2 separate regions of the Homo sapiens genome follow, and region 1 is linked to region 2. Evidence: fine-mapped expression QTL. A gene starts in region 2. The other region holds a variant in brackets. All regions are shown on one strand. Distances are between the middles of the regions.

Evidence for each region. PIP is the estimated chance that this variant, and not a neighbour inherited with it, causes the effect.
Region 1: its variant is the best candidate, but not a certain one, in a credible set for the expression of TMCC1 in whole blood (INTERVAL, PIP 0.82).

Annotation. Positions count from the first base shown.
Region 1 is chr3:129,915,421-129,919,801 of GRCh38, reverse strand. No RefSeq gene overlaps it. Among named protein-coding and RNA genes, the nearest start is that of TMCC1-DT, 24 kb to the right of the region's middle. The variant C/T (reference allele first, on the strand shown) is at 2,331.
Region 2 is chr3:129,891,564-129,895,944 of GRCh38, reverse strand. TMCC1 (transmembrane and coiled-coil domain family 1) reads left to right here and starts at 2,234. Exons shown (of 7, transcript NM_001017395.5): 1 at 2,234-2,451. TMCC1-DT (TMCC1 divergent transcript) reads right to left here and starts at 2,074. Exons shown (of 3, transcript NR_037893.1): 1 at 2,018-2,074. RefSeq lists a silencer at 1,977-2,706 and enhancers at 2,068-2,859, 2,860-3,652.

The sequences.
Region 1 (4,381 bases), 24 kb before region 2:
CAAGCATATGGATTCCCCCTCATTACTAAGAGTCCTAATTGTAGCCTCTTAGCTTAATTATAACCTGTTTAATACTAAATTCACTTTCTCTGTGAAATCTCTCTTCGTGGCGCTCCCCTTGAATTCTTGTTCTAAGAGAGAGGGAGAGAGAGAAAGAGAAGGAGAGAGAGAGAGAGAGAGAGAAGGAAGGAAGGAGAGAAGGGAGGGAGGGAGGAAGAAAGGAAAGAAAGAAGGAAAGAGAAAGATCAGCTTCTTTTCTGCCTTTCCTCCTTACCCCCTTTCCCTTTTCCTTACCTTCCTTTCCTTCTTTTTCCTTTTCCTTTCTTTTATTTTCTTTCTCTCTCTCTGTTTCTTTCCCTCCCTCCCTCCCACCCTCCGTCCCTCCCTCCTTCCCTCCTTTCCCTCCCTCCCTCTCTCTCTTTCTCTCTTTCTTTCTTTCTTTCTTTTTTTCTTTCTTCTTTCTTCAGTATTCACACCTGGGGGACCCTTAACCCCAAAGTGGATTTTATGGACAACAGCACACTGGGGAGACAAGGAGCCCCACAGCACTCCCACCCTCTCCCCAGGTCACTTCTTGCTTCCTGGTCCTGCTCTTTATTGGGGAAGGAGAATCGTATTTGACCAGTGGAACTCCAGGACAGTCCCTGGCCACCATCAGTAGTGGGCAGGGTCACAGCATGTTCTAGGCTGTGCACACTGAGCCACCGGCCATGCACAAGGGCAGGGCCTTCTGGACCTCCCTCAAACTTCTTAATAACACATGAGGAAGCTCCCTGATGGGAGCCACTCTGACCCCATGCCACTCTAACCCCAGCACAGTCTGGTTCCCAGGACTTCAGGATCCTCCTGGAGACCTCTCAGCATGATTAACACAGTCAGACGAGACCTGAAGGGGCCGCTGGTCCTTCTGAAAATGCTCACTGGGCAGTGTGAGTGTGGGGAGGCCATGCACAATGTGTGGGACTCTGCCTTGCACCTGCTCAGAGCCTCAGCCCTTCAGAGCCACTGGTAATGATTTTCTGTGGGTGGGGTCATCCTGATACTTCTCTGAGGTCTCTTTTCCTTTCAGTTTTTCTGAGTAACTGAGAGGATCACATGACTGCATACTGCCTAAACTAGGGTGTGCACAGCCCCCATTCTGTGCAGGGAGGGCGCAAAGCAGCAGATTGCCTGTGACTCATCTGCCACCTTTCCAATGCTACTACAAAATTTGCAAGAAACGGTAGTGTTATCAGGAATCACCTTTATTTAAAAAGATAAAGCAGGATTGCTGGGCACACGGAAGCGTGAGCATATCGCCCGGCTTCTCTCCACAGCTGTCGCCCGGCTTCTCTCCACAGCTGTTGGCGTCCACTGTCAGGTTTCCATGTTCTTGGACCTCAGGGCCTTCATCCTCTCCAATCTAAATGCAGAGAGACATTTGATACGGACTCTCTCAGTTGTTTTGCAAAATGCAACACACTCTCATTGACTCTGGTCACCCTGCTGTGCGCTAGATGTCAAAACCTCTTCCTCCTGTCCGGACTTTGGTCCTTTAACCGACAACCCTGATGGTCTGCAGGTCAGTGCTGGGTGGGGGATGAAGCAAGGCTTTCTGGAGGCCAGTGTGCTGAGCCCTGCAGTGTGAGGAGAGGTCGCCTAAGTAAGTAGGGACAAGGGCAGGAGGGTAGCCTCTGCAAAAGCTCAGGGATGACCGAGGGTGTCTTGCTGGAGTGATGTGCTAGTCTGAAGGTAGGACTGGGGCCAGGTTGGGAGAGCTCGAGTCCCAGGACAGAAGCTGAGCCTGTATTCTGAGGGCCGTGGGCACTGTGGAATAGTTCTGAGCCCCCTTGCTGGGCCACAGCCTTCAAACCCTGACTCTGCTCCTGACGTGGGAGTGGGCTCAACTGAACTTTACCACCACACCAGCCTCACTGCCTCCAGTCTCCCCCACCCACACCCCTCCATTCAGGCTCCCAAAGGGATCCAAGGGAAAGCCACCTCTGGGCTCCACCACCCAGCTGGTGGCCCTGAGAGCTTCAGAGGGAAGCCCTTCTCCTTGTCCACCAGGGCTCACCTGGGCAGCCCCACAGCCCTGCCTTTCAGACCACCCCATGTGCCCAGGTGGGTCACGTGATTCTTGAAAACAAAATGCTTGTTCCTTGGTGCCACAAGGAAAAATTAGCATTCAGACAAAAAGTTTTCTCAGCAAGGCAATTTTACTTTCTGCAGAAAGGATGCTGCCCATCAGCAATTTTGCCACAAGAGCACGATGAATAAAGAAAGGCAGGAATATTTATCCCTTACACACTGGGTCCTTACTGCTGTGTCCTCTCTTCGTTGCTTGGAGA[C/T]GGACCTCACAATCTAAGCTAAACTCAATTGGCTAACAACTTAAAACTTTCCTAAATAGGTAAAGGCAATGGAGAACAAAAGGAAAAGAGGAAGTTGCTTGCAAAAGGTCTTAGAAAAGTAATAACATTTCCAAATAAGGAAGGAAGAGGAAGTTAGTCTTTAAAAGAAACTATTACTTTTAACATTTATTATTTATTCTTTAACAAGAAGGGAAACTTTGAAGAGGAACTTTTTATTTTCCACACCGTCATGTTTCCTACACACCGTCCCCACTGCCTAGAGTTCCCCCCTTACTCTCCTGCACTGAGTGACTTCCTGTCCCTTCAGTCCTAGCTGAGATATCCGGTACTCTGGGGAGCATCCCTGAGCCCTGGACACAGAGGAGCCCCTTCTGCCCTGGATCCCAGAACCACTTGTGCTTTCCTCCTATCACAGTGCAGAAACTCCCACCACACACACACACAAACACAAACAGACACACACACACACACACACACACACACACACACAGACACCGGCACACATATTCACACACACTTGCCACCATTTGGGGACATTGATTACTGCCTGCTGGACCACCCCTCTCCCACCCCAGCCTCTCAGGGAGCCCCAGGCAGAGGTGCTGCTATTAATAGTAGGGGCCCTGTAGGTGCATTGGAGGTAGGGAAGGGAAGGGCTCCCCAGGAATACCCCTGCCTGGATGACAGCCACCCCATGGGGGGCACGGCCACCAGGAAACTTAGGTCTTGAATAAGCGGAGGCAGCAGGTACAGGCTGGAAGGATAAGGTGGGGCCAGATTCCCAGGGTCCCTAAATGCCAGGATGAGGTGCTTCTATTGTCTCCTGGGGTGCAAGCTTTGGAAGAGGCGGGGCCCATGGGGGCAGCACTGGGGAGGCCGGCCTGGAGGGACATGGCCACTGAAGGGGTGCACCTGTCCCTGTCCCTGATGGCTCAGCCCTCACTGGCACCAGGAATCCCTTGGTGGGGAATGGGGGGTGTCATGGCCTCCTGCCTGGTGCCTGAATACCCCGACATGTTCCACCCAGGATCCTGCACTTCTTCCTTCTTTTGTTTTTTTTTTTGTTGTTGTTGTTGTTTTCAAGACAGAGTCTCACTCTGTCATGCAGGCTGGAGTGCAATGGTGTGATCTTGGCTCACTGCAACTTCCACTTCCTGGGGCCAAGCTATTCTCCTGCCTCAGACTCCTGAGTAGCTGGAATTACAGGCGTGCACCACCACGCCCAGCTCATTTTTTGTATTTTTAGTAGAGATGGGGTTTCACCATGTTGGCCAGGCTGGTCTCGAACTTTTGACTTCAAGTCATCTGCCTGCCTCAGCCTCCCAAAGTGCTGGGATTACAGGCGTGAGCCACCGCACCCGGCCTGTACTTCCTCCCTCTGCCCTAATGTCCCCCAATGATTGCTGAGTCACTCAGGCTTCCTCCCCTTGAAGTCTCTGCTCCCCTCAAGCTGCTCCCCCTTGCAGACTCCCCCCTTGTTTTTGTCACCCACACTGCACACCTTCTTGTCATTGACTCACCCTTGCTTTCCTTTTTTTTTTTTTTTTTTTTTTGTGAGACAGGATCTTGCTCTGTCACCCAGGCTGGAATGCAGTGGCACGATCATAGCTAACTGCAGCTTCAACCTCCCAGGCTCCAGTGATTCTCCCACCTCAGCCTCCTGAGAAGCTGGGACTACAGGCTCATGCCACCACACCTGGCTAATGTTTTGTATTTTTTATAGAGACAGGGTTTTGCCATGTTGCCCAGGCTGGTCTTAAACCCGTGGGCTCAAGTGATCCTCCCGTCTTGGCCTCCCAAAGTGCTGGGATTCCAGGCGGGAACCACCTACTGACTGTCTTCACATAGGCCATCACCAAATTAACTTCCTCTGGGGCAGGACAGGTGTGAAGTCGGTGAGGGGAAGCAGCAGGGTGTGAGGAACACAGATGGAAGTGCTGTGCTAAACGGACCTGGCCCCTAGGTGCAGTGTCGGGGAGTAACAGGGCATGGTGGAGACTGTGGCAAACGAGTGCACGGGCCAGGTCTAA
Region 2 (4,381 bases):
GCTGGAGTGCAGTGGCGCCATCTCAGCTCACTGCAACCTCCGCCTCCCAGGTTCAAGTGATCCTCCTTCCTCAGCCCCACAAGTTAGCTGAGACTGCAGGTACGTGCCAACAAGCCCAGCTAACTTTTGTATTTTTTGTAGAGATAGCATTTTGCCATGTTGCCCAGGCTGGTCTTGAACTCCTGAGCTCAAGTGATCTGCCTGCCTTGGCCTCCCAAAGTGCTGGGATTACAGGTGTGAGCCAGGCCATGAATCACTTTTTATGGTTCATATTTTTTGTGTCCTAAGAAGTCTTTGCCTATCCCAAGGTCACAAATACTTTTTCTATGTTTTCTTCTAAAATTTTCTTTTATAGGTTTAGCTTTTAAATTTAGGTTTATCATCCATTTTGAGTTACCTCAGGTGGCTCCTTCAGTGCTTCTGAAATCTATAAATGCATCCTCCACCAACCTCAAATCTAAGTAAACCTTGCCACCTCCTTCTCCTTCACTCCTCATTCAATTTATTGCCAAGTCCTGTCCATTTTACCACTACATTAGCACTCTTCTCTGTCACTACCCTCCTACTTTGCCTTGACTATGTGGCCAGTGGCCTCCTAACTGGCTTCCCGGCCCCAGCTTTGAGACTCCCATCAGACCACTCTTCACGTTGCTATCTAAGTAACTTAAAAACAGACATAATGGGCTGGGGGCAAGGTGGCTCACACCTGTAATCCCAGCACTTTGGGAGGCCGAGGTGGGTGGATCATGAAGTCAGGAGATTCAGACCATCCTGGCCAACATGGTGAAACCCCGTTTCTACTAAAAATACTAAAAAAATTAGCTGGGTGCAGTGGCGTGCACCTGTAGTCCCAGGTACTAGGGAGGCTGAGGCAGGAAAATCACTTGAACCCGGGAGGCAGAGATTGCAGGGAGCCGAGATCGCGCCACTGCACTCCAGTCTGCCTCTCAAAAACAAAAAACAGACATAATGATCAAGTTATTTCCCCTGCAACCCTGCTGAAAAAAACCTGAATAGCTTCTACCAAGCACTCAGATTAAAGTCCCAAATCCGGCCGGGTGTGGTGGCTCATGCCTGCAATCCCAGCACTTTGGGAGGCCGAGGCGGGCAGATCACAAGGTCAGGAGTTCCAGACCAGCCTGGCCAAGATGGCGAAACCCCATCTCTACTAAAAATACAAAAATTAGCCAGGTGCGCTGGCGTGCGCTGGTAGTCCAGCTACTCCGGAGGCTGAGACAGGAGAATCGCTTGAACCCAGGAGGCGGAGGTTGCAGTGAGCTGAGATCGAGCCATTGCACTCCAGCCTGGGTGACCTGGGTGACAGAGTGAGACTCTGTCTCAATAAATAAATAAATAAATAGGTCCCCAATCCTCACCTGTTCTCGCCTACCTCTTCCCACACTCGCAGTCTACTCCACATTCAATATTCTTTAGCGCTCCCCATTCTGGCCATGCCAAGACCTCACCCCTTGGAGCAACTAACTCCTCCCAACTCAATTCCTCAGATTCTACCCTCTTCATCCTCAACTAAATCAATTCCCCCATAAAGATTCTCTTAGTACCATATACCTCTCAGAAGATTTTTACTAATTGAAAACTTAATTTTGTCTGATTCTCCCATGAATGTTTTCCTTCTCCACCAGATCTCAAACTTCATGAGACCAGGGACTCCGTTGACCCCATATGGTACTCCCAGCTCCTTGAACACGGAAGAAGCCTCATTACATAAGTAATAAAAATAAAATAAATTAGGAAAATGGGAATTATAAAGGGATGGGCTGGTGGCTGCTTACAATCCCTTCAGTGGTAATACCTGGTGCAAAGTAATGAGTCTCTGCCCTTTTCCAAGCAGCCTGCTAGGTGGAATGAAGGAAGGCCTTGCGACTCAAATAGGGAGAACAAACGTGTGATCCAGAGCGGCGGGCAGAAATCCGACGAAACCCCATATTACTCAGGGGCGTTGCTCCTAGGGCGAGGGTGGCTCGGTTCCTAGAGCTTTTTGAGAGGAGGAGCTTACCTGGAGCAACTCAGCACTACCTGCAGCGGCGCAGCTCAACCAGCCCAGAGACCGCGTGGGAAGGCGGGCTAGGGGAGGGGCCACGCCTTCCAGGGCCCATCCCCGCCCCTGCGGCGTGCGCGCGCCCGTCCGCCCGCTCCCTTGCGCGTGCGCCGCCGGCCGGGGGCGGAGGTTGTGGGCGGTGGCGGCTGTGGCGGGGGCGCGCGCGCGCTCGCTCTCTCGCGCCGGTTCGCCCTCCCGCGCCGGGGCTGAGGCGGCGGCGGCGGTGGCGGTGACTGAGGCGGCGGCGGCTGAGGCGGCGCGGGGGGAGGGTCGGGAGGGGGGGGTGGTTGTGGGGGATGGACCGGGTGCGGCGGCCGCAGTGGAAGGAGCAGGCGCTTGAGCTCGAGCGACGGCGCTGGCGGAGACGCCGGCTGCTCCTCCCCTCCCCGCCGGTGAGTGAGCGCCCCCGCCCCGGACGCTGGCGGCGGTCGCGGCCCCCTCACGGCCCTCCGCGGTGGGTGGGGACAGTCGTGAGGGAGCGTGGCCTGGCGGCGCAGCGGACGCGGGCCTGGCCTCCCGCTCGCGGCCTGTCGGGGCTGGGACCTGCCGTCGCCCCCGTTCGAGGTTGAAGCCCCGGGCCTAGGACTCGACCCCCAGCATCCCACGGGGCCTCTTTCCTTTCCCGGCTCATTCCGCTGTCATTTTGACCTGGGGTTCCCCTCCAGCCCCTCGCCTCGTTCCCTTCCCAGCATCCCAGGGCCGAGGTGAGGGAGGGGCGTGTGAGAAGTCGGGCCGAGGCCCGAGGGACTGTTTAGGAGCCGGTTCCCGTCGGAATCTGGGGTTTTAGGAGCCCTCGATCGCCATGGCGTCCCAGAAGTTAGCCACCAGGACTCAGCCATTTCCACCTGAAACCAGTTTTGCACCTATTGTTTTGATTTTGAACTGTCTTTCGAGGGGAGGAGGGAGCCCGGCGTACTGGGGAGAATATGTAGTGGGAGGTGGGATGTGAGGAGGAGCTGGCTGGGCTTGGTCTCGGCCTCAGGATGCCCCCTGTTAACCCCTGTAGGATAGGGGAAAGAGGTGCAGCGAGTTGCACCTTCCCTAAAGGGCCAGAGATTCGTTTATAGCTTGCGAATCTCTGCTTTTTCAGCCTCGGTAAAGGGGTATCATTTGTGGTTGGTTTGGTTCGTCCCTTAACAACATTCTTGGTGAGGAATCCCCAGGTGAATCTGCCACGGAGTGAAGCAGCCCACTTGAGCTGTTGGCTACCCCCGGCCCCCGCAACGCCCGTTGGCTTTTGTGACACGTTACACGTTAGTGTTGGTAGAGCCTAGCCGTCAGAGGTACCTGTACCATAAGCATCTCTACGAAAGGTGTGAATTCCTAAATTAGCTTATTCTGTTCTTAAAAAAAAAAAATCCAGGGCATAAATATCAGATAGCTGCTTTAAAATAAAACAAAACTTTGATTTGTTCCAGGAGGTAGATACATTTTTTTCTCTGTATATTAGGAGATTGAAACTCAAATTGTGAGTAGGTGGTAGTTTTACTAGTGTCATGTGACAAAACGATGCTTATAGATGGGATTTTAACTTAATAACCCTGTCCTCTACCAACAGAGTTGGCTTGTATTTTTTTGCAATCACCCACTCTCTGGCTAGTGTAGAAAGATTAAAAAGCTGCTTCTGGTCTGTGGGTGGTAACCTTTTAATTTCTGAAGAGTTTTGAGCTGCTTATAGATTGCTGATCAGCAGCATAGGAAAATTTTAGACGTTAAAAATTCATTAGCATGTGATGTAGAACTGTTATAATTATGAGCATTGATTAAGATTTGGTATGGTGTAGGTGCTGTGTACTGTGTATAAGAATGAGATTTCTCAGAGCATTTGCATCTTAAGATAAACAGAAGCACAGACCGCTGACAGTGTTGGGACACCTTGCAGAAGGACTCTTTTATGAGCACAAAAGACCTGTAGTCTACAATTTGATGAAGAACCCCAGTGCCCTAGACTAGTTGGTGACCAACCACCATTACTTTAAACTGGGCCTTCTTGATAGTAGAATATTTCCCCTTTTCTGCAAGACTGCTTATGCCTCTCATAAATGTGCAGAACATATAATGGCTCAGGGCTTAGGTTTAAGCTCCTCAGAGTGGCATTTATGGATCATTCATTAATTCATCAAATGTTTATTGAGCCCTTACTTTGTTCCAGGATGTTTTCTAAGTACTGGGCTACATTGTTGGGACAAAACAGACAAGGCCTCTTCCCTAATTAAGCTTTATTCTGTATGTATGGGAATGAGGAATATACAACAAACAAGCAAATAGGATCATTTCAGATAATGATATAAATCAGTGGTTAGTAAGCTTTTTTTGGTAAAG